Linked DNA regions of Homo sapiens. The protein of the gene in region 1 interacts with the protein of each later gene in a biochemical or structural test. Each region holds a gene or a part of one and is shown in the gene's direction. Other genes may lie near its edges.

Evidence for each region.
Region 2: the proteins of KCNJ18 (region 1) and DLG1 interact in a test that uses a peptide from one of them, tested with the Homo sapiens proteins (2 studies listed by IntAct, with this or other methods).
Region 3: the proteins of KCNJ18 (region 1) and FRMPD1 interact in a test that uses a peptide from one of them, tested with the Homo sapiens proteins (one large-scale study listed by IntAct).
Region 4: the proteins of KCNJ18 (region 1) and LNX2 interact in a test that uses a peptide from one of them, tested with the Homo sapiens proteins (one large-scale study listed by IntAct).
Region 5: the proteins of KCNJ18 (region 1) and FRMPD3 interact in a test that uses a peptide from one of them, tested with the Homo sapiens proteins (one large-scale study listed by IntAct).
Region 6: the proteins of KCNJ18 (region 1) and SYNJ2BP interact in a test that uses a peptide from one of them, tested with the Homo sapiens proteins (one large-scale study listed by IntAct).
Region 7: the proteins of KCNJ18 (region 1) and GRIP2 interact in a test that uses a peptide from one of them, tested with the Homo sapiens proteins (one large-scale study listed by IntAct).

Annotation. Positions count from the first base shown.
Region 1 is NC_000017.11:21,691,282-21,695,322, forward strand, and holds the start of KCNJ18 (inward rectifier potassium channel 18), read left to right. Parts: upstream 1-1,241; 5' UTR 1,242-1,433; intron 1,434-4,041. UniProt on the Homo sapiens protein: Inward rectifier potassium channels are characterized by a greater tendency to allow potassium to flow into the cell rather than out of it.
Region 2 is NC_000003.12:197,068,113-197,071,612, reverse strand, and holds part of DLG1 (disks large homolog 1), read left to right. Parts: intron 1-2,352; coding exon 2,353-2,394; intron 2,395-3,075; coding exon of another isoform or gene 3,076-3,111; intron 3,112-3,500. UniProt on the Homo sapiens protein: Essential multidomain scaffolding protein required for normal development. Recruits channels, receptors and signaling molecules to discrete plasma membrane domains in polarized cells.
Region 3 is NC_000009.12:37,706,454-37,709,953, forward strand, and holds part of FRMPD1 (FERM and PDZ domain-containing protein 1), read left to right. Parts: intron 1-962; coding exon 963-1,120; intron 1,121-1,945; coding exon 1,946-2,048; intron 2,049-3,500. UniProt on the Homo sapiens protein: Stabilizes membrane-bound GPSM1, and thereby promotes its interaction with GNAI1.
Region 4 is NC_000013.11:27,575,530-27,579,029, reverse strand, and holds part of LNX2 (ligand of Numb protein X 2), read left to right. Parts: intron 1-3,500.
Region 5 is NC_000023.11:107,596,152-107,599,651, forward strand, and holds part of FRMPD3 (FERM and PDZ domain-containing protein 3), read left to right. Parts: intron 1-1,169; coding exon 1,170-1,991; intron 1,992-3,500.
Region 6 is NC_000014.9:70,407,091-70,410,590, reverse strand, and holds part of SYNJ2BP (synaptojanin-2-binding protein), read left to right. Parts: intron 1-3,500. UniProt on the Homo sapiens protein: Regulates endocytosis of activin type 2 receptor kinases through the Ral/RALBP1-dependent pathway and may be involved in suppression of activin-induced signal transduction.
Region 7 is NC_000003.12:14,512,843-14,516,342, reverse strand, and holds part of GRIP2 (glutamate receptor-interacting protein 2), read left to right. Parts: intron 1-1,864; coding exon 1,865-2,051; intron 2,052-2,532; coding exon 2,533-2,678; intron 2,679-3,485; coding exon 3,486-3,500.

The DNA of each region.
Region 1 (4,041 bases):
GAATTCATGCCTTGTTGCCCCAGAACTCTTATAGTTTCAAGCTCTCTTATGGCCCTTGGGCTCCCCATTGCCTTTGGGATCAAGTCTAGGCTCATTAATATGACATCTGAGGCCCCCTGGGGTGATGCCTCAGCCTCTGTGCCTGCACACGCTGAGCTTCCCTGATATGATGGTGTCAAGGCTGTGCCCATCTCGTCACACCTTCCCCACAAACCCCGAATAGTTTAGATCCTGGAATGGAGGGCTGGCAGGGCTTCTGTGGAGTAGCTGGGCCAGCCCCCTGGTTTGCACACAGTCAGGGTGGGTCTTGCCCAAGGCCCAGTGCCTGGAGAGTGAAGCTGGAATCTGCACCAAGACTGCAGGACTCTGGTGCTCTTAGCTGTGTCACTGTGCTATGGTTAGTCTCAGGCGGGGTTGTCACCCCTGCTGCTCGCTGCTGCCTCCCCACTGGCAGATACTCCTCTAGGAAGCACCCCTCCTGCCACTGGGTTAGACACCTCCCCTGGGCTCCAGAGGGCCCAGCGACTTATGACTGCTGACTTCTCACCGTCTGCCCTGTGAGGCAGGGTGCCCCATGAAGGCAGGCGCCCAATGCTTCCTCTTCAAGTCCTCGGTGCCCAGTGAGGACTTGAAGAGGGAGACCCAGAGAGGGACAGAGCCCTGCTCCAGGTCACACAGCAAGTTGGGGCAGAGCCAGGAGTCCTAGAAGGGCCCCAAGACCCTCCAGGTCTCCCCTGTTCGTGGGACTTAATGGAGCCCAGGGATGGGGCAGTGTCTGTGATGGCCACCCCAGCAGAGGGCACTACTGCAGGGCCTCTGTTCTCTGCTTCTCCCAGGGGCCTGGGGCCAAGGACACCCTCTGTCCCTCCTGCCCCCACCCTCTGTGAAGAAGGATGTTCTCAAGATAAAAATACCGTCAGAAACATTCCCTGGTGTTTGGTGTGACTGTCGTCCACCCTGTGGGGCCAGAATCTTCTGACCTGGCCTCACCTCAGGGCTTAAGGGTGGACATTTGCCTTTTCTAGCCGCTTGGTGCAGCCTCTTTCTGGGGTCCATATGTCCAGCCCCCATCTTTACGCCACAGAATGTGAGGGGTCAGTGTCACTCAAGGTTCCTGCAGCTTCCACTTTCTGAGCATCCTCTGTGGGCTGGGCGCATCCCGAGCATGGAACAGCGAGGCAGATCCTGCCCTTGTGCGTTTTGTGGCTCCTTGCGGGCCAGGGGGGCTTCTGAGGACATCCAGCAGGCCACAGGGAGGCTTGGGCACAGTCAGCTTTCCGTCCTGTTGGGAAGCCTGTTTCTGCTTTCAGTGCCTACGTGGTGTCAGGAACGCCGGTCACAGTGAACGCCTGCAGGACCCACACTGCTGCATCGTCTCTGTGGGACAGATACTGAAGCCAGGGCTTGGCTTACCCTCGTGACAGTCTCCCGAGGTGTGTGGGGTCTCCTCATTTTGCAGATGGGGAGTTTCAGGCCCCAGTCAGCTGGGGGGCTGCCAGGCCTCTCCAGGGAGGGTGACGGCTGCCACCTCCCAGAGACCCGCTGGGGCGAGGCCCAGTGCCCGGACTGCAGCTTCGTCACCACCTTCAATTTCATGGCACACCCTCTGAGAGGCCTGGCAGGCGACACCAGCCTCATTTTTCAGGGGAAGCTGAGCCTCAGGAAGGGGAAGTGCCTTGCCCTGTTCCGTGGGGGATTTCAGCCCCATCCTCAGCCCAGGCCCTGCCCTCCCCTGCGGGACGCTGTGGGCCAGCCCGGCCTGTTGGCCCTCAGTCGTGGTCATGGGGAAGCACTGCCCCTGCAGCCCACCTCCCCATCCAGGATTGTGACCATAACCCCGGGAAGCATTTGTGGGACTTGGCGGGGTGAGCTCACATGGCGGCTGCTGTGGCCCCTGCAGGTGGCGGGAGCTCTGGCCAGGGCATCCGGAAGGCTGGCTCCTGTTTGCAGGGTGCTGCCCTGCCCTGTGACTTCAGGAAATTCGCTTCTCTGCTCTACGTCTCAGTACCCCTGTGTAGAGTAGAGCTAATTTTGCCTTCCTCCTAGATAAAAACAAATCCAGCTGGATTTGTGGTCTGGGGAATGCCCCTTTCAGGTAGTAGGGAGTGAGGGACGAGGTTGGGAGAGCCTGGTGCAAGCCAGGTGACCAGCAGGATGTGGATAGATGCTGCTGCCCACACTTCTGGCCCCCACCCCTGCTTGGCTCCCCATGGCCCTGTGGCAATATCCGACCTTCGCTGCTCAGAGTTCCAGCTCCAGGTGACTGTGCAGGTGACTTAGCTTCTCTCAGCCTCAGTTTTCCTATCTGTCCAGAGGGGAGAATTGTCCCTCCTCCAAGGCAGGGCTGTGAGCATCGGGATGACTGCAGCCAGCTGCCAAGCATGCAGGGCCAAGCACAGTGTTGGCTCACTCGGGGAAGGGGGTGGACCCAAGTCCCTGCCGTGGAGGTCCCCAGCTGTTTGATGTTGGCTTGTGACAGAACCTCTCTGAAACTCTGCAGCTCATCCACCTGTCCATCCATCCACCCGTCCATCCATCCACCCATCCATCTCTGAACCTCTGTGTCCCCATCAGTTTTGAGGATGGAATGGCTGAGAGAGGCAAAGTGTAGGCCTGTGGCTTCTGCTCCCAGAATGATGAGGGATGGGGAAGAAGGGGCTGGGGATTGGGGGACTTGGAGGGTGAAGAGGGACTGAAGGGCCACTAGAGACCAGGCAGGCCATCCCATTTCAGAACAAGCTGAGAGAGGGGAAGTGACTCACTCAAGGTCACACAGCTTATGAGGGGCAGAGCTGGGATTTGAATCTAGGTCTGTGTGCCTGTAAACCACTGTCACCTGTCCCAGGAGGCTGATGATGTGGGGGTGACTCACCAACAGTTGCCTTAATTCCAGCCAGAAAAACCAGTGTGACAAACCAGCCTCGGCTGTAACCTTGGAAAGGGCAGGCCCCATGAACTCCATGGCTGGGAGGTGCGGAGGTGAGAAGCATGTCAGGTGGCTCACCGTGGAGATCCTCAGAGCCCCTTCCCACCAACCTCTTCTCTGATTCTCACGGCACACTGGATAGGAAGGCAGGGGGATCCCTTTGACAGGTGGGGAAATTGCATCTTTGGGATTGCAGGGACCATGTAGGATGTATGTGTACCCAAGGCAAATCTCTGGCAAATTACTGATGTGTGCCCATCCATGTAGTTAGCCATGTGCCCACCTGCTCATCCATCTAGTCATCTATCCTACTTGCCCAAACACCCTATCCATCCATCTACCCACTCATCACCCACCCTCACACTCATCCACCCATCCATCTATCCATCTACCCACCCATCCATCCACCCATCCACCCATCCATCTATCCATCTACCCACCCATCCACCCACCCATCCATTCACCCATCTGTCCATCCATCCACCCTTCCATCCCTCTATCCATTCATTTCTTTACCCACCCATACACTCATCCACCTGTCCATCTATCCACCCATCCACTCATCCACTCATTCACTCCACCCATCCATCACCCAACATTCCATCCATCCATCCATCCATGCACCCGTCACCCATTCATCCATTAATCTGTTCATCCACCCACTCAACCATATACCCACCCATCCACCCAGCCATCCCTCTATCCATTCACTTCTTCACTCACCCATCCACTCATTCACTCACCCATCCATCCACCCAATCATCTGCCCATCCATCCATCCCATTCGTCTATCCATCCATCCACCCACCCATTACCCATCCATCCACCCATCCATCCATCCATCCACCCATTCACCCATCTATCCCTCCATTCATTCATCTACCCATCCGCTCAGTCACCCACCCATCTACCCTTCTGTTCATCCATCCATCCAATCATCTACTTTCACACTTATCCATCCATCTATCCAACCATCCATCCATCCATCCATTCATCCATCCATCCATCCATCCATCTTTCCATCCTATTATCCATTCATCCACTCATCCATTCACCCATTCATCCACTCATCCATCCTTCCTCCATACAGCCATCCACCCTCACACCCAACCACT
Region 2 (3,500 bases), on another chromosome or scaffold:
GAAGAAAAACATTTTATTTTTCTAATAACATTCCAAACAATTATGATGACGCTATTCTAAGGACCATACTTTGAGTAGTGAGGCTTTATTGTAGAAGAGCTAAGTGAAATGATATTTGAAAGAACCTGCAGAATTTGATTGTGGCGTAGCTTTTGGCAGTCTTAGAGGGTTTGAGGTGAGTAGGAGAAATCTCAAAAAAAAAAAAAAAAGACAGTGAAGAGATTTTGGTAACTTAAACTTTTTATTATATAAATATCAGATATATTCAATAGTAGAAAAGTAGTAAAAATAAACCCTGCAGGTATTTGTTTATCCAGCTTTCATAATTGTCAACTGAACATTTGCCAATTCTGTTTCTTCTGTACTCCCACTTACACTCCCCTCCCTTCACCCCATTGCAATAACTAATTTTTCTTTAGTTTACAAACTAGAGATTGCAGAGGGTAATACCAATACTAATGTAAACAGAATAACTCTTTTTTTAATGTGGCGTGTTTCTGGGTATGAAATTTAAGGAAATAGGACAGAAAGTTAAAAGGTATATATAAATGAAGACATTCATAATTGTTGATACTTGTGAAAAACAGTTTAAAGCAAATAAAAATATCTAATAAATAGCGAGGTAAATAATGTATCAATCTAATAGAATATTATACACCAATTTTAAATTATTGCTGTCAAGCCCATGTGGTGACATGGAAAGAAATATTTTAATATGAGCTTTTAAAAAACCTACCATTTGGCCAGGTGCGGTGGCTCACACCTGTAATCCCAGCACTTTGGGAGGCCAAGGCAGACAGATCACGTGAGCTCAGAGGTTCAATATCAGCCTGGCCAACATGGTGAAACCAGTCTCTACTAAAAATAGAAAAATTAGTTGGGCATGGTGCTATATACCTGCAGTGCCAGGTAGTCAGGTGTCTGAGACACAAGAATAGAATCGCTTAAACCTAGGAGGCAGAGGTTGCAGTGAGCTGAGATCGTGCCACTGCACTCCAGCCTGGGCAACAAAGGGAGACTATCTCAAAAAAAAAAAAAAAAAAAAAATGAAATTTCCAGCTGGGTGTGGTGATTCACACCTGTAATCCCAGCACTTTGGGAAGCTGAGATGGGAGGATCCCTTGAGGCCAGGAGTTTGAGACCAGTGTGGGCAACATAGTTGAGACTTGTCTCTTTTATTAAAAAAAAAAAACAAAATTTTAGCAGGGCATGGTGGTACATACCTGTAGTCCCAGCCACTCTGGGCTAAGATGGGAGGATCACAGAAGCCCAGGAGAGGAGGGCGAGGCTGCAGTGAGCTATAGTCATACCACCTCACTCCCACCTGAGCAACAGAGTGAGGCCCTGTCCCTTTAATTAAAAAAAAAAAAAAAAGTTAAAATAAAAATTCAGATTTCCCTGTCTCATTGAAAGTTTTATTTTTATTTTTTAAAAATAAAAGTATTAGTCTTTGTTTAATTGAAGGGAGATATTTATTGAGAGAAAACTTGAGATGACATTTACATGGATGAGAAGAGTGCCTATGGTTTTACCAAACAATAAAGTCGTGAAATGGAGTCACTTTTAAGGAGGGCCAGGCAGTTTCTGGCTGGGTGTGTTTGTTCTCATTGTCTTTTTTATGTTTTGCAAAAGCCAGCCAGTGCCAGTCTTATCAAAGCAGAGTTTCTAAGAAATATTAGTTGGTTTTAAAATGCAATTGCCACCATCGGTGCCTTCCCTTCCAGCTGAGACATCTGAATTTATGACTTCTAATATTAGTTGGTTTTAAAATGCAATTGCCACCATCAGTGCCTTCCCTTCCAGCTGAGACATCTGAATTTATGACCTTTACAATCCTTTATCTATATGATCTCAGAAACATGGATTTTCATCTTCAGAAACAGGAGCAAAGCTGGATTGAAAATAAGATCATCTATTTATTTTTAATTACAAAGACATCCCGTCATTAAAATGGGCATCTATTTGTTTAAATATAGTTTGTCCCCTTTGCCAGTTAACGCTGTTTCAAAAACTGAAATAGTGCCAACAGTATTTTCTCCTTTGAGTTTTATGTCTACATTTGGACTAATTCAGGGTCACTTAGCCCTTTTTGTCATATTCTACTTGCTATTTATAATAGATTTGTTCATAAACTGTGTTGTACAAAAATAAGGCATTGTCCTTAATTACAGGAGTTTTCCTTTGCTAATATATATTTATTATTTGAAAAACTTAAACGTTTCAAAGAAAAAGAAAATGCTTTTAAAAAATTATTTTGTTATATATGGCTTATATCTCAACATTTCATTTTGATTATTTGCTTTTTAAACTCATGACACTGTTTTATTTTTTTTCATTGTCCTGCAATTTCAGAGCATGTAACTTCTAATGCCAGCGATAGTGAAAGTAGTTACCGTAAGTGTTTTAAGTTACTTGTTCTTTTGTAATCTCGAGTAATACATCCTCTGCAGGGGTGGAGGGATTCTGAGTGATATGTTATAAAAACCTGAAGTTATATGATCGTTATTTTAAAATCAGGGAGAGACAAGTAAAATTCTGTACTTGAAAAATAAAATCATACTATATATGTAGAGGTTAATTTATAAAATTTTAATAAAATAAAAATATTATTTGTGTACATGATACATATGTATATGTATATGTATTTTTTGTAAGAAGTAAATATCTAGTTAAATGGGGGAAAACTTGTATTTTGACCTTCTGTTTAGTAATTGGTTTTAACATGAGCACTAAAATAATATTTTTCAGTAATGCTAAATTATCATTAGCTTTATTTCCATTTTTATTCTTTGTCACCAATACTGATCTGGGTCATGTCATTGTTTATCACCAGCACTTGGTGAACGGAAGAAATAAGGAAACATTTTCAATGATCACCTGAAAAATAATACTAATTTTTCTTTTGCTGTTTTATATTACATTCTTGGTTTTATTAAGTGAACTGCACAAGCATGTGATGTTTTAAAACAGACTTGGGCATGGGAGAAGGGGAGGGTACATAATATCAGTTGTAGCACCTTAAAAATTAAAATTACTTTTCTAACTTTCTTTTTTTACTGCTGTCTAATATGAAAGTAATCTTGATTACAGATGAGTATGGCTGCTCAAAAGGTCCATCCTGTTAATATCAGTCCCTAATACTTTTTCATGTTGACAGTATATACTTTTAACCGTCATTCATTTGGTTGATTATTTTTCTACACAATAGTTACTTAATGATTTTTTTTTTGGTGTGGAAATGATTTCCTGTATTTCAGCATTTTATTAATTATAACCAGAACCCACTATAGGGTAGTTGAGTGGCTTTCTAGGCTAAAAAGAGGTAATGAAAGTATATACTGTCTCTCACCATTTGCATGAATTATTAAGGTGTGAAATATTCAAATTGCATGTGTTTGCTAGTATGTAAGCCATGTTTCACATCCAGTACTTTAAAAAACAGCTTATAAAATATTGGTCTTATGTACTTTGATAATAAAATTGAAAACAAAGAAATACTT
Region 3 (3,500 bases), on another chromosome or scaffold:
TATTACTCCTTCACATTTCTGTTGTTCATAATGACAATAAACACCTCATCCCATCACTATTTGACCTTCCTCAGAAAGAACCACTGACTGTTAGAGGGAAAAATCATTTGCCACAGGTGAATGACAAATAACTTGTGACTCGCTTTGTGGTTTCTCTCTTTGAGAGATAGAAAATATTACTTTCCTGCTTTTAAGGAACATACATGTTTTAAAAGTTGATATAGAGGGAGTCCTTGCTATCTGAGATTTTATATTGGAAACCTTGCAGTTACAAAGCTTAAAGGGAAGCAAAATTCATCATAAAGAAACAAAGAAAAACATCACCAAAGACAAAATCTTGCTATAAAATTATCCGTCATCAAACATCTGAACCTGACAACTCCTTGTTTCTGCTCACCATCCATGTTTTTCCTCTCCTGTACCTCTGACTCCAGCAGTATGTCCTGCCTGGGATGCCCATCTGCCTGTTCTTCTGTCAGTCCGTCCATCCATCCATCCATCCATCCATCCATCCATCCATCCATTCATTCATTGATTCACTCAGCAGCAGTTATTGAATATCTTCTGTGTGCCAGGATCTGGGCTGTATAGGTATACCCTAGACATGTCTCAGAGTGCAGCTCAAATGCCACCTCTTCCAAGTACCAGATGCGTCCCTGATTCCCTATTCCCTGCCCTACAAAGGTGAAACTGCTCTCCCCCTTCTCTGTGTGTCCATAGCACTTCCTGGGCGCTTTCTAGATATTTAGCATTAGCTCATTAAGAATGCCTGGCAATACGACTTCTCTTTTAGAGGACAGTCCTAAGTTCTGCTAGTGGAGTTGGTGTCTTATTTGTCTCAAGAGGAGAATTGGTGTCTGCTCAGTTCTGCATCTTTCTCCATGATGCTTAGGGCTGACCCAGTTCGTGACCAACAACTAGAGTCTTCTCTTTCTCTTTTTTACATACTCCTTCTCTTCCAGGGCTAAAGTTGCTGCAGCTGATGGGCCCGCCAGGAACCCAACTCAGACCCTCATCCCTGTGCGACACACAGTAAAGATAGACAAAGACACCCTCCTCCAGGACTATGGATTTCACATTTCTGAGAGCCTTCCCCTTACAGTGGTGGCTGTCACAGCAGGTAGGGGATGACTGGGAAATGAGAAAGGAGTTTGGTTTCTTAAGGGGAAATAGCCCCAAATCTCCCCGATCTCTCTATCCTATAACAAAATGCAGAAAATCCTACCTGGGAAGTTAGAAAAGGCACACCTAATTCTGTCTTGGGCTTTGCACCTTACTTTGATGCTGGGAGGGAGGAAGCCTCAAGTGCACTTGCCGCTCCAAACCCCAGGCTCCCACTGGCCTTGGCTAGGGCGTTGCCCACCCTTGGCTCCCTGGCTGGTCTCAGGGGCAGTGAAAGTATTTGGCTAAGCTAGCCTTCCTCTTTGAACCCCACACGCTCCTAGCTGGGGATACTTTCTGGTCAGACAGTAATAGAAACCATTGATTTGTTTTCATTTGAACCTTGTGAAATACAGGCTGTACCAGGGTGGAGAGGAGCAGGTGGGGAAAGTCCAGTGCTTGTTTTCATAATTGAGGTGTGTTAATCTGGGATTCGTTAAAATGTATTGATTTCTATTTACTACACATACACACCAGAGTTTTTTAGAGATGAATGGAGTAGATTTACTGGCCAACTCTATTGATTTAGAAGGTTTCTGCTAGTTTTCTTTCTCAGGACAGTCTTCTAACATCCCTGGAAGTTGGTGATAGATGATAGGTACATTATCCATGGTTTATAAACAGGAAAATTAAGATCCACATGAGCCCAAGCCTGACTGAAGGCGGGGGAGTGAGCCAGTGCCCCTGGGAACTGGATCAGGGTGCCATTTAACTGTGCCGCTATTACACATAGAGTCTGGGTCCTCCCGGCATGAGCACCAATTACTTATTTTCTGTCCAACAGGAGGCTCTGCTCACGGCAAGCTTTTCCCTGGTGATCAGATCCTCCAAATGAACAATGAGCCTGCTGAAGACCTTTCCTGGGAACGAGCAGTCGATATTCTCAGGTACTAAATGGTCTTCCATCATCTACAGAATTGCACAGATTATCAAAGAACAAAGATGGGCAACAGGAATGGCATAACTGATCCCCTGATTTTAATAAGGCTAAGTCTCCTTTAAAGCAGCAAAAACAGCCTCGTTTTAGAGTTCCATCTATTAAAACGGCTTCTTGTTAGTGGCTGTTACAGTCCACTCTCTCTCACTTGCCTACAAAAGAGCTTGGGAGGCACAGAGTGCTGTATTTGTCAAAGCCCTGCTATGCCCAAGACACCGTGCTAAGCATGCAGGGAATGTAATGATCATAAATAACCCACAGGCCCTACCCTCTAAGGATTTATAGGCACGTTGTAACATATGCCAAAGATTGAACTAAATTGATGCCAAATCTGTTCTTCTTTATCCCTCTTGATATATCTTCTTAAATATAATTGCAGGTGCATCTTGGTTGGCATATATGTAGTTTCATTGATGTAGCACCTCCAAACCTTCTGTCTGGTGTCATTGTGACTTATGAAAATGCCTCGCTTTTTACCTAGACAATGATTTCCTGAGACCAGGGCTCAGTGGGTGCTCAGTTAAATGAGTGAATATGGTTAGCGCTGGGAATTGGCAACCCAGACTTTAAGACGGAGGAGTGCCATTGATAGGAGTGAAGAGGACAAGCAGACATTTTAAGGGCACATGAAGCTTTGGCTTTTAAATTTTTCACTCAACATTGTTCTAATGACTAGTATAAAGACAGACGAGAATCAGAGGTAGATGAAAGCTAACTTGAAGAGATATATATATATATATAAAATTCAGTTTGTGATTTTTCATGAATGGCTGATCTGGCTTTGGGGTGGTATTAATTGTTTTTTTTTCCCTTTTTTTTTGAGATGGGGACTTGCTGTGTTGCCTAGGCTGGTCTCAAACTCTTGGGCTCAAGTGGTCTTCCCATCCCAGCTACTCGGGTGGCTGAGGCAGGAGAATCGCTTGAACCCGGGAGGCAGAGGTTGCAATGGGCCACGATTGTACCACTGCACTCCAGCCTGGGTGACAGAACAAGACTCCATCTCAAAAAAAGAGAGAAAGAAAAAGAAAAGAAAAGCCAAGGAAATACACTGTAAATGCTGGAGAGTCCTCCAACTTGGGCAGAAGTTGTAGGCTGACAAAACAGAGAAGGGCCCAGAAATATTTCAGTTGTGTCTTTAATGCTGGGTAAAATTTGGTCCAAAAGATGGAGGTGAAGGGTGATTCAGGCAAAGAGGTAAACAGAAGCAACTGGGTGGGAAGTAGGGGCTGCTGAGCAGTTCAGTTTGCCTGCAGAAAAGTTCTAGGAAGTGAAGTCCAGATGATAGAAGGTCTTGAATGCCAGCACAGCATGTTTCAGTGTGATTCTCCCCCTGGAAGGGCGAGCAGTTGAAGGCTTCTGAGCAGGGATGCATGACTTGAGGTGTGCTGTGCATCTGTACCCT
Region 4 (3,500 bases), on another chromosome or scaffold:
TTCAGTTTATTTGCCCAAAGTTGACAGTCATCTCATGTTAGTCCAATTAAATTGTTGATCTGTGTTTCAGTTATTCATTGCTGAGAAACTAACCACCCCAGACACACTGACATAAAACAACAAGCATTTGTTGATTCTGTGAGTCAGGATGCAGACAGGATGAAACAGGGATGGCTTGTCTCTGCTATCTTTATGTGTGCCACAGCTGGGAAGGAGCTGAAAGCCAGGGACTGCAACAGTTGTAACTGGAGAGTCTACTTCCAAGATGGTTTCTTCATTCACATTTCTGACACCTTGATGGGAATGACTAGGTGCGTGGGACTTGTCAGCTGGAGAGGCTACAGGTAGCCTTCCCAGCATGACAGCCTCAGGGTATTTAAAGTTCTTACATAAGTGGTTCAGTGTCTAGTAGGCTGCATGGCCTCATATGATCTAGCCTTGAAGTTGCCTGGCATCCCTTCTCTGTTGGAAGCAGTCATAAACCCACCCATATCCAAGGAAAAGGGGACATAGGTTTCACCTTGTGATGGGAAGTCAAAAAAATTTGCAGCCATGTTCTAAAACCAACATAAACTAGCAAGAAGAATGATGTTATGCGGCGCAGAATATGATTACTACGACTGTTTGCGGCTTCTCGGTATACAAATCTCACTTGTTTGTTAGAAATTGGTAAGTCTGTAAGTTTCATTGAAATTCATAAGATTTTAGCATCAGCAACAAAGAGTCATTGTATAAAAGTTGCATGGCTGTCATGTGCCTTTGCTCTTGAGCTTTTAGGGTTTACAGGAATCTCTTAATTATTGGTAGAAATAGAGCATTAGCAGTAGTTTGCATAAATTTGATAATTTCACATTTAAGATCACCTTCCTATTTGAATGAAATCCTGCCCTTAACAAATGTGTTTTGATTTGAGAAGAGCAAACATTTTTCTCCTACAGATAAAATATTTATGAAAGATGAACATGTTTAAATAAAACTGCTATTTTTAACTGATTATGTATTAGTGAAATGAAGAATTTTAAGAGACATGGACAGTCTCTATCTTTGAACAGAGAAATAAAGCCTTTGAAAAATATTCTACATGTTGTACTAAATATGTAACATTTTGATTGTTTCTTTGAAATTCTGCCAAGCAACATCAGCTATATAGCATTCCTCCTACGCTCTACCACTCATCTCCAACCCACCCTTAACGATTTAACATTTAAGCCTTTGGTAATTGTAAGTGCTAGTTGTTGTTGTTGTTTTTAAATTGTGTGTTTGTGCCCTAGTTTATGGCAAGGTTCAGAATTACTTTTCCTCTTAAAAATTACAGTTTAATGCCATTATAAAAAGTTTACAATAGAAAACCTTTAAAGAAGCCTCTTTCCTTGCTGAGAACTTTTCTTGTTCATGAGATGGTTATGAAACCTTAAGTTCAAGTTTGTTCAGCCTGTGCCACATGCAGCCCAGGAAGGCTTTTGGGATTATTTTTTTTTTAAGCTTATCAGCTATCATTGATGTTAGTGTATTTTATGTGTGGACCAAGACAATTATTCTTCTTCCCGTGTGGCCCAGGGAAGCCAAAAGATTGGACAACCCTGCTTTAGATGATGGTCCAGGAAAAACTAAATAGAAAAAAAAGGGATCAGGATAGGCTGAGGCATGATTGCACTTTTAAATTCACACTTTAACTTGGAGGGAAGTTTGTGTTTAGCACATTCTTATCAGTATTGTTTTTTCATGTATGGTGTGAAAAAGCAGATATATGTATTTGCAAATCATGTGTATTCTAGTATCCAGAATATATAAAGAACTCTTAGAAATGAAAAGATAAATCCAATTTTAAATGGGCAAAGGATTTGAATAGATAGTTCTCCAAAGATACTCAAGTGGCCAGTAAGCACATGACATGCTCAACATCATTAGTTCATTTTTATATTGGATTATTTGTCTTTTTGCTAAGTTGTAAGAATTTTCTATGTATTCTGGATACTAGACCCTTACCAGATATATGATTTGCATATATTTTCTCCCATTCTGTCAGTTGTCTTTTCACTTTCCTACATCCTTTAAAGAACAAATATCTAATTTTTATGAAGTTCATTGTTGTTTGCTTATGCTTTTGGTGTCATATCTAAGAAAACATTGCCCAATTCAAGGTCACAAAAATTTACATGTACGTTTTCTTCTAAGAGTTTTCTAGTTTTCTCTCTTATAATTCAGTTTTTGATCCATTTGGAATTAATTGCAATGAGAAATCATAATGTGTATTGTTCAATCCTTTAAATTTTATTGAGGCCTTTCTTTTCTTTTTTTTTTTCTGGAGATAGCATCTCGCTCTGTCACCCAGGCTAGAGTGAAGCAGTGCAATCTTGGCTCACTGCAGCCTCCACCTGCTGGGTTCAAGTGACTCTTGTGCCTCAGCATCCGAGTAGCTGGGACTACAGGCGCACTCCACCATGCCCAACTAATTTTTTTTTTTTTTGTGCTTTTAGTAGAGACGGGGTCTTGCCATATTGCACCAGGCTTGTCTCAAACTCCTGAGCTCAGGTGATCCTCCACCTAGGTCTCCCGAAGAGCTAGGATTACAGGCGTGAGCCACCATGCCCAGCCTTGAGGCCTTTTTTAAAATGGCCTAGCACATGGCCTGTCTTGGAAAATGTCCTGTGTGTACTTGGGAATAATGTAAATTCTGCTGTTAATGGATGGAGTGCTCCATATGTCTATTGGGTCTAATTGGTCTATAGTGTTAAAGGGTCTATTTTCTGGTTCCATGTCTAGTTGTTCTGTTAGTATTGAAAGTCGAGTATCAAAAGCTTTATTGTTGATTTGTCTATTTCTCTCTTTGTCATTTTTTACTTACGTATTTTGGGGCCATTGTTTGGTACAATTTCTGTTTATAATTGTCATATCTTGTTATGTTTTTCTGTCTTTTGCTTTATTTATGTCTTTGAATCTGAAGTGTGTCTGTTGTAGACAGTTGGATTATGTTTCTTGTAGCCCATTCTGCCAGTCACTGACTTTTTATTGGGATGTTTCATTCATGTAATTTAATGTAATTACTGATAAGGTAGGCTTTACATTTGCCATTTTGCTGTTTGTTTCTATATGTCTTATTTCTTTTTTCCTCCATTTCTTCCATTTGTGTTAAATATTTTTAATATGCTATTTTAATTCCCGTGTCATTTCTCTTAATTAAAATTATTTTCTTAGTGGTTACCCTGGGGCTTACAATTAACATCCTAGTTTATAGCAGTCTATTTTAAATGAATACCAGCTTCATTTTCACTAATGAATTAGTCAGGGATCTGTAAGGAAATAGAACCAATATATGAGGAGTTGGCTGACATGATTAAGGAGTCTGAAAAATTACACGTTCTGCTCTCTGCACGCTGGCAACCCAGGGAAGTCAGTAGCATAATTCAGACCTTCTCAGTCAGAAGGTCTGAGAACTAGGAGAGCCAGTGATCCCAGTCTGAGGGCAGGAGATGAGATGTCACAACTCAAGCAGTAAGGCA
Region 5 (3,500 bases), on another chromosome or scaffold:
AGTTTGAGTGGCATTTTGAAGGCTTGTTTTCCAGCATCTTGACCACCATGATGAGTTATAAGGGTAATGGCTAAAAACATGGGTTTTGAAGTCTTTCAGACCTAGGCGGAAATCCAGTCTACCACTTGGTCTATGTAACCTTAGGTGAGTCAGTTTCTTTATCCTTAAAATGTGAATAATGATAATAACTACCTCATTGGGTTGTTATGAAGAATAAGTAGGATCATGTATATTAGGACCTTAGCCTAAGTTAGTGCTTGTTTGTTATCTGTCTGTCTGCTGTCCGAGTATATTCTCACAGATAAAATGGGGAAGAGCTCCAAAAACAGTGAGAGAAGGTATTCACAGATAAAGCATTTGCTATAGATAATTCTCAGATGCACACACCTACCATCATTAAGAGCGGTTGACGAGAGCATTTGCCATATGTATGTGTAGCAGGTAGGGCTGGCCCTGCATGAATGCAGAAAAGAATAAAATTTGAAGAATTATAAGAATGCTTCCCCTGCCCTCCTCCCACATATGCACATCCCAGCATATCTCCCATATACTTTACACATTCAGACCCCGGAATTCTAATATAGAGCCTTATTCTTTTAGGATCCCTCCATCAACAGGCCTCTTTGAAATGCAAACTCTTCGGCATTATATGTAGCCTGTTTAACAGGTTCTGACTAAAGCATTAGTAACTTGTCAGATTTATTTCCTTCTGCTAGAAGAGATTCAAGATAACAAGAACAACAGAGCACTGGTGGAAAAGCTCTGAAAAGGGGTGGGGACAGGGGTAGGAACAGTTCCAAGTGGGACATACGTTTACAGCTGACTTTCAGATAGAGGGTATCCATGTAAGAGTCCAGCTGTGCCCAGATACCAGGCCCTAAACCAGGGTGTTCACCCCGACCCCTACCATACCCCATGCCTTTTCCCATTTCAGAGGTGATGGGGCTATTAGCAGCTCAGGTTATTAGACTCTATTCACTCTACTTTCAGGGTCAGCAGTAACATAGCTCATCAACTTCCCTACCTCTAATCTTTGGCAGCCAGGTAATGCTTTGTCTTGGGACCTGCCACTTGATTGTGCTACAGAGACATGGGCCAGAGACAACAAGGGAGCTCATTCACAATCCTTGGCACCAGGGCTCATCTGTTGATTCTCTTTCTGGGTTTAGATTACATGCACAGCGCCCACCGCCCTGTCACTGGGGGCCACCTGGGGAAAAAGGAGAGTAGTTATGTGGGCAGCGTGGGCACCAGCCCCAGGAAATCGAGCCGCTGCACGCCCCCACCTGCCGACTCTGAGCTTGTCAGCTTCTGCTACCTCCATATGCGGGAACAAAGGAAGGAGCAGGAAAGCCGGACAGATGTCAACGAGAACCTAATCTTCTTTGAGGAGACCAGGCCCCGAACCAAGTCTGACCCCACATCCAAAAGCTCTGGCCAAGGTTATGAGGTAGTCCCTGATGACTTTGATGCAGCTAGCCTAGACCACGAGCCTTGTGCCAGCAGGGCCCGGTCCTACACCTTGGACAATTCCCTTGGGGCTGAAGCCCTGAATTTCTACTGTGACTCTTGCAAAGCCAAACTTCAGGAGCAGCTGGGCCCTCGCAAAGGTGGGAAGCCTGGCTCCTCTCGTGACAATATAGTAGATTTGATGTCCCTCCCACCACCTGGGAGTGAGGAGGAGGAGGAGGAGGAAGATGAGACAACTTCTCTGTTGCCAGCCATTGCTGCCCCACCCCCTGGTTTCCGAGACAACAGCTCTGATGAGGATGACCCCAAGCGCCGGGCTGTCCAGAGCCAGGAACAAGGACGCCACCTGCGTGGGCTTCTGTACGATGAGATTCCAGTGACATTGATTGACAGTGTGCAGACCCGGACAGTTCGAGATCATGCCCAGGAGCTAGATGATGCCCTGGTGTCCACTCTGCAGGCTCTAGAAGCCCTGGCTGCATCCGAGGATGGACCACACCCACCACCCCCACAGACTGCAGGTAATGACCGATTCCTTCTCCCTCTTTCCACCCCCTTCTCTTGTCCAACAAGGGCCAGTAGGTAACATTGTGTCTTCCCAAATAGGTGTCAGAGTCACTGAGGTATGTCAGGGCAGTGGATGTACCAAAGGTTCTTTAGATAGGGTCAGAGGAGCAATGATGTTACAGCAGGGAGCAGCTGCTCAGCTCTAGCTAGAGTTCTGGCTCTCGTCATTGCATCTCTTTGGAAATGCCTTACAGATAGATCCCAGGGATTGGGGTCATGACAGCTATGGATGCAGGCCAGGATAGAGGATCAGAGAAAAACTGTGAGAGATGTAGAAGACAGGTGAAGAACAGAACATCCAGCATGCACATGATTGAAAGAAAAGGAAAACGACCAACTCACTACCTAGTGACCTGGGACCAGGGGAGCCAAGGGCCATCACTGCTCATGGCTGAGGTCTTTATCCTGCCTAAGAACATGGGCTCTGAATCAGATGCACCGAAGTCCTGGTTTCTTCAATCATTGTCAGTGTAACCTTTGGCAAGGCACTTACTCTCTCTGAACCTCATTCCATCATCTTAAATGGGTTTTATAAAAGTAGTTCTATCACATGGGGTTGTCACAAGGATTGAATGAGATCATTCATGCAAAGCATGTAAGCACTGCCTAGCACACAGTAAGGCCTCAGTAAGTGGTAGCTATTGTAACTAAGTATTAGTTCACAGGAAAACCGTACAACATGCATGCTGTTCCCTGTTATAAACACATGTATGTCCATCTTGTAGACAAACACATGTCAGACACATACCCATAGTCACACATATGTCCCTCCATATACATACACCTTAAAAAAAGAGAAGAGAGCTGGGCGTGGTGGCTCACACCTGTAATCCCAGCACTTTTGGAGGCCGAGGTGGGCAGATTACTTGAGGTCAGGAGTTCGAGATCAGCCTGGCCAACATGGTGAAAACCTGTCTCTACTAAAAATACAAAAATTAACTGGGTGGGCTGGTGCACACCTGTAGTCTCAGCTACTCAGGAGGCTGAGGCAGGAGAATCGCTTGAACCTGAGAGGCAGAGGTCGCAGTGAGCCGATACTGCACCACTGCACTCCAGCCTGGGTGACAGAGTGAGACTCTAAAAAAAAAAAAGAAGAAAAAAGAAAGAGAAGAGGTAAATGACACAGCAACAGAAAAGGAATAGGGAGGAATAGGGACCACGAGGGATTGGGGTCAGAGAGAGCCTGCCTTTTCCATGTGTGAGGACACCCTTGACATTGGACAACCCCCATGTATTTGGCCCCCAGGGCTGGCATTTCTCTTTGCTTAGAGTCTGGAGAGAGTGCTAGTTGCTCCCAGGCTTGAGTCCCACGTGGCTGCTGGAGAGAGGACAAGCTCAGCTAAATGGCCTCAGCTGCAATGACTGTAGGCGGGCCTGGCCAGATGAGGAGGGATAGAGAGAGACCTCTCTTTGCCAGCCCCTCTTTAGGACAATTAACAAAAATTTCCTAGCTGTTGAATCTA
Region 6 (3,500 bases), on another chromosome or scaffold:
TATGGATAGTGCTGCAGTGAACACATGCATGCATGTGTCTTTAATGTTTTTTTAATGCTTTGTCTAGTGCATGACACACAGTGGTCAGTAAGTGTTCATTAAATGACTGAGCAAACTGATAGATATCATAATAATATAATGGAATGTTTTTATATTTATTTATTTATGACATAGGGTCTTACTTTGTCACCGAGGCTGGAGTGCAGTGGCACGATCTTGGCTCACTGCAGCCTTGACCTCCTGAGTACAAGTGATCCTCTTGTCTCAGCCCCTCAAGTAGCTGGGACTACAGGTGTGTGTCACCACACCTGATTAATGTTTTTATTAGCCATATTTTTCATAGAGACGGGGTTTCACCATGTTGCCCAGGCTGGTCTCCAACTCCTGAGCTCAAGTTATTCACCCACCTCGGCCTCCTAAAGTGCTGGGATTACAGGCGTGAGCCACCACACCCAATGTACTTATTTATTTTTGAGACAGGGTCTTGCTCTGTCCCCCAGTCTGGAGTACAGTGGCACTATGACAGTTCACTGCAGCCTCGACCTCTTGGGCTCAGGTGGTCCTCCTGCCTCAGCTTCCTGAGTAGCTGGGACTACAGACATGCACCACCACACTTGACTAATTTTTTTTTTTTTTAATTATTTGTAGAGACGAGATCTCACTATGTTGCCCAGTCATGCCTTGGACTCCTGGGCTCAAGTGATCCTCCACCTCAGCCTCCCACAGTGCTGCGATTCCAGGCATGAGCCACTGTGCCTGCCATAATGGGATGTTTTAAATAAAGAGAAGCAGTAACATGATCTGTTTCAGCTTTCAAAAAGTGGTAAACATGGTTCTTCACTAAATACAATTTGAGAAAGAGAGAATGAGGATGGACACATTGTATTATGATGGATAGGAAACTGGCTAAGATATCAGAAACAAGGAGAAGGAGTAGATGGAACACCTCTTGGAGAGAGTCAGGTAAATGGAACAGTTCTCTAAAGATTGCTTCAAGGATCAGTATTAAGATCTTTTCAAAACAATACTAAAGAAAAACTGTACAGTAAAATATCTAGGAATTACTTTGGGGAAATAGAAAGGCAAGCTGATAGATGTTCAACTGCAGAAACATTTTGCGAAGCCATGTGACTAGCCAGAAAAGTGGTCAATGATTACATGTGATAAGTACACAATTATTTATTGAGGGAAAAATAGCCAAACTATACTTAGATGATAGGGTCAGAACTGCTGGTTTCAGAAGACTGAAAAGTAAAGTAAAACTATTTTTTAAAATTTATTTAGCATTTATTATGTGCCTACACTATGATTAGGAATCATGGACACTAGAATAAAGAATAAGAAATGATCCCCATTTTTAAGAATTTTGCAGTTCAAGCCAGGCATTGTGGCTCTTGCCTGTAATCCGAGCACTTTGGGAGATCAAGGAGGAGGACTGCTTGAGGCCAGAAGTTCAAGACCAGCCTGGGCAACATAGCAAGACTCCCATCTCTGCCAACAAAACAAAGCAAAACAAAACAAAACATTAGCTGTGTTTGGTGGTGCATGCTTGTAGTCCTAGCTACTTGGGAGGCTGAAGTGGAAGAATTGCTTGAGCCCAGGAGTTCGAGGTTGTTGTAGTCCTAGCTACTTGGGAGGCTGAGGCAGGAGAATTGCTTGAACCTAGGAGGTGAAGGTTGCAGTGACCTGAGATCGTACCACTGCATTCCAGCCTGGGCGATACAGCGAGACTCAGTCTCAAAAAAGAAAAAGTGCCAGAATGCTTGAGTTCAAATCCTTACTCTATCACTCACTCACTGTGTGACCTTGTGCAAGTCACCTCACTTCTATCTGCCCCAGTTTCCTCAGCTATAATATGAGAGTATTATTAGAATCTACTTATAGAGTTGTGAGGATTCAATGATTTTTTTTTTTTTTGAGACGGAGTTTTGTTCTTGTTGCCCAGGCTGGAGTGCAGTGGCGCAGTCTCAGCACACTGCAACCTCTGCCTCCCGGGTTCAAGCGATTCTCCCGCCTCAGCCTCCCAAGTAGCTGGGATTACAGGCGCCCGCTACCACACCTGGCTAATTTTTCTGTATTTTTAGTAGAGATGGGGTTTCACCATGTTGGCCAGGCTGGTTTCTAACTCCTGATCTCAGGTGATCCACCCATCTCGGCCTCCCAAAGTGTTGGGATTACAGGTATAAGCCACCACGCCTGTCCGATTTTTGTTTTATAAATAATTTGTAGTGACGATTCTGTACTGTCTTAAGCACTTTACCACAAAACAACTCATTTAATTCATTGAAGTGCTTTAAGGATACTGCTATGTGGGGAGTAGACTTTATGGGGCAAGAATTGAGTCATCTAGGAAGGGTAGGGTAAGCTGTGTCAGTAATTTCAGGGATATGGGGCTTCTGTTTCTCTTTTTCCCTCCTTTTATGCCTTAGTTTATAAAAAAACCCTATTACTGCAATAGTCCTTCCCCCTCCTCCAAAAAAAAAAAAAACCTGTTAGAAGCTCCCAGAAACATTTTTAACCTTGTGAGATTTCCCTAGAACTGGAAATGTTAGAAATTCCTGACCTAGGTGTAATTTTCAATTCCAATAATAGTCAATTGACACCAGTTGGGCTTTGTGTATGTACTAGGTACTATATTGGCACAGGAGGTACAAAAATGAATATAAGCTAATTACATTGTCTTCTAGGAACGAATATTGCAATAGGGTAATGAGACAATTAAACAAGTAATTTCATGTTTTCAGGCAAAGGGAAGAAGACATCCAAAGTCACGGAGATAAGCAGTAGCTGTGGGCGGGGATGATAGGGTGAAAAGCGATAGCAAATATTAAATTTTGTTTACTGTATAATGCAAAGTAGAGAATGTCCAAAGATGGCTAGAAAGGTAGATTATGGTGATTTTGAGTTTAAACTTCATCTTCTATGTTTTTTTTTTTACTTTGATTTTATCTTGGGGATATACTTAGAATTTATTTAAAAATCATTTTATCATATTTGCATAGGAAATAGTAGAAAAAGTCTACTGTAAGGAGGATACTATAACAAATTTTTTTTTTGCTTAATTAACACAAAATTGGTGCTTTGAGAAACTTTAGCCTTTTATTATTGACTAAGTTGGTGCAGAAGTAATTGTGGTTTTTGCCATTTTTTTTTTTTTTTTTGAGACGGAGTCTCGCTCTGTTGCCCAGGCTGGAGTGCAGTGGCACAATCTCGGCTCACTGCAAGCTCCGCCTCCCAGGAGATCACGCCATTCTCCTGCCTCAGCCTCCCAAGTAGCTGGGACTACAGGCGCCTGCCACTATGCCTGGCTAATTTTTTGTATTTTTAGTAGAGACATGGTTTCACCATGTTAGTCAGGATGGTTGTGATCTTCTGACTTCATGATCCACCTGCCTCGGCCTCCCAAAGTGCTAGGAGTACAGGTGTGAGCCACCGCACCTGGCCGGTTTTTGCCATTTTTTATAGCAAAAACTGCAATTACTTTTGCACCAACCTAATAA
Region 7 (3,500 bases), on another chromosome or scaffold:
CAAACTGGGCCATTTGAGATAGAACCAGGTGAAAGAAGAGAGGAGTACAGGTCACCTGGTGTCTGAAAAAAGCTAAATATGGTTCTACACTCCCTGGCAGCCAAAGGGAAATGGGAAACAGATTTCAGTCAGATGAGAGAGAAAATATATCTCTACTAACCACCTTTCCTGGCCACCAAAGTGGGGAATATGTAGATGAAAAGATGCAGAAATGCTGTTCGTAGGTGGGGGATGTGGAGACTGGAGGCTCTTGCGACTCCTCTGCCTGTCTCCTTCCTGGGATGTGTAACTAAGAAAGTACTATCATTATTGCTGTTGATAGTAATTTATTAATTAATTATAATTAATTAATTATGGGGCATAGTACTGAATGTACATACTATGGGGACATAGTAGTGAAAAGAAACAAATAGGCCAGGCATGGTGGCTCACGCCTGTAATCCCCACACTTTGGGAGGCCGAGGTGGGCAGATCACTTGAGGCCAGGAGTTCGAGACCAGCCTGACCAACATGGCGAAACTCCATCTCTACCAAAAATACAACAAATTAGCCTTGTATGGTGGCACACGCCTGTAATCCTAGCTACTCTGGAGGTGGGAAAATCGCTTGAACCCGGGAGGCGGAGGTTGCAGTGAGCCGAGGTGGCGCTTCTGCACTCCACCCTGGGCGACACAGTGAGACTTTGTCTCAAAATAAATAAATAAATACATATAAAAACACAATATACCTAAAAACATAACATATTACACATTTTGTAATGTATAATATACAATATAATTTAATAATATAATATGACACAATAATATAATTAGTAATGAAATACCAAATAAATTTTGTTTGATAAATAATAAATGACTTTCAGGATTCATATTAATGATGCAAATATATTTCATATATGGAATGTAAAACAATATTTATTAAATAACCTTATGTATCAAATAGTTAAACATAGAGTTGCCATATCACCCAGCAATTCCACTCCTAGGTATATGCCCAAGAGAAGTGAAAACATGTGTCATCTCCACCTAAAAACTTATACACAAATGTTCATAGTAGCATTATTCACTGTAGCCAAATAGTGGAAGGAACGCAGTATCCACCAATGGATGAATAGATAAACAAAATGTGGTGTATCCATACAATGGAATATTATTCAGCCACAAAAAGGAATGCAATTCTGACACCTGCAAAATGTGGATGAACTTGAAAACATTATGCCAAGTGAAAGCAGCCTGTCACAAAGGCCACATGGTGCATGATTCTGTTTATATAAAGTGCCCAGAACAGGCAAATGCAGAGATGAAAGTAGATTCGCGGTTGCCTAGGGCTGAGGGACATAGGAAGATCTTTGGGGATGGCTGAAGGGAACAGGGTTTCTTCTGGAGGTGATGAAATGTTCTCAAATGCATCGTGGTGATGTTTGCATAATTGTGAATACACTAAAAACCACTGAATTGTACACATTAAATAGGTGACTACTGTGGTATGTAAATTATATCTCAATAAACCTCTTACCGAAAAGCAGAGTGACATAATATAGTAGATACTACAGTAGATCACAGCACAATAATACAATAAAATGACACTGCCCCCCAGAACCTGCTTTACAGCATGACAGTCAATCCCAGCCACTGTCTTCCCTAGTCCTTGCCACACCCCACGAGGTGGGAATCAACGATCCCATTGTTCAGATGAGGAAGCCAAGGCTCAGAGTGAGCTGTGATCTGTCTGGTCCCAGACTGAGTCAGGGCTCCCACTTCCTTGCACTCTGGCTCCAGTGCCTAGGGCCCCGGGATGGGCAGGCCCTGGCAGGAAGACCTCCGTGGGGCGGCTCACCTGAATGCTGGGCCCACCTGTCCTACAGTGTCGCTAGCCTCCAGCACGGTGGGGCCGGGCGGGCAGATTGTGCACACGGAGACCACGGAGGTCGTGCTCTGTGGAGACCCCCTCAGCGGCTTTGGCCTCCAGCTCCAGGGCGGCATCTTCGCCACCGAGACCCTGTCCTCCCCACCCCTCGTGTGCTTCATCGAGCCTGACAGTCCGGCTGAGAGGTGAGCCTCCTGCCCCCTCCCTACTGAGCCTGCCACTCTCTGAGAGAAACTGAGTCACAGCACCAAGCCCTAGCTTCACAAGCGCATCTCACTTAACCATTGCATCAGCCCCAGCACCAGCCCCATTTTACAGATGAGGAAACCGAGGCTCAGAGAAGCTGACTCACTTGCCCAGGATTACACAGCTCACCCATGGAATCCCAGGGCTTGAACCCCTGTCTGCCTGAAGGCAGAGTCCTCTGTATACACAACTTGTAAGGCCCATGCCATCATCCCCATTGGACAGACAGGGAAACTGAGGTCCAGCAAGGTCCAGCCCTTAGCCAGATTCCTGAGGATACACAGGTGGGCCAGGGCAGAGCTGAGAGTCACCCCAGACCAGGAGGTGTGACCCAGGTTCAGTCCTGCCCTGCATGGCGTTCTTGTCTCCCAATGGACCTGTCACGGAGCCTCTTCTCTCTGCCGGGCCCCCTGGGTTCAGGTGTGGGCTGCTGCAGGTGGGGGACCGTGTCCTGTCCATCAATGGCATTGCCACCGAGGACGGGACTATGGAGGAAGCCAACCAGCTCCTGCGGGACGCCGCACTGGCCCACAAGGTCGTGCTGGAGGTGGAGTTCGATGTGGCGGGTGAGTGAGTGGCCCAAGCTTCCTCCTCATATTTCAGGGCCCTGCACCCCTCCTCTCTTTATCCTGCCTCGCCTGTGCAAACGCTCCACCCCATCCCCCTCTGTGCCCAGTGCCCTTCTCCCAGGGGCTTTGCAGCTTATAGTGGGAAGGGAAGCCTTGGCACGGGAGGGAGAAGTTTCCACACCAGGAGACTTTTGCAGAGGGGCAGGACCAAGTGGGGATGGGGTTGGGGAGCTGAAAATACTCCAAGCTCCTTCTCAGCATGGGTTAGGCAAAGAACCTCGAACAACAGTTTGGGTCAGAATTCTGCTTCTGTGACCTCAACACAGTGTGGCTTTGGACAGGACACTCCCTCCACTGTTTCCCCATCCGTAAATAGTTGATAACGATCTTTTCACTATAGGGGCGGTACTTGGGTTAGGTGAGGCATATGCCCAAGAGAAATGAAAACATGAAAATACCCAGCCACGGCCTGGCACATAGTAGGTGCTCAGGAAATATGTGCTAGATTCACACTGGGTTGTTAGGCTGTGGGGAGCTCCCTTCCCGCCCGCCACACTAGCCGACAGCCAAGAGGCCTGGTTCCAGCCCCGACTCTGGTCTGACTAGAGCAGGTCAGTTGTTTTGAGCAAATCTGTCAGCTCACTCTGCCTCAGTTTCCTCCTCTGTTGAGAGGAAGCAGGGGGATGAGATTAGAACTGTGACTTTCGGGGTCACTCCCAGCACAGCCAGAATGGGCATGGGGCTGGGGTTCGCTGAGGCTCCTCCTCTGGGTCCTCACGTCGGTTTATGTCCATCTACCCCCAGAGTCCGTCATCCCAA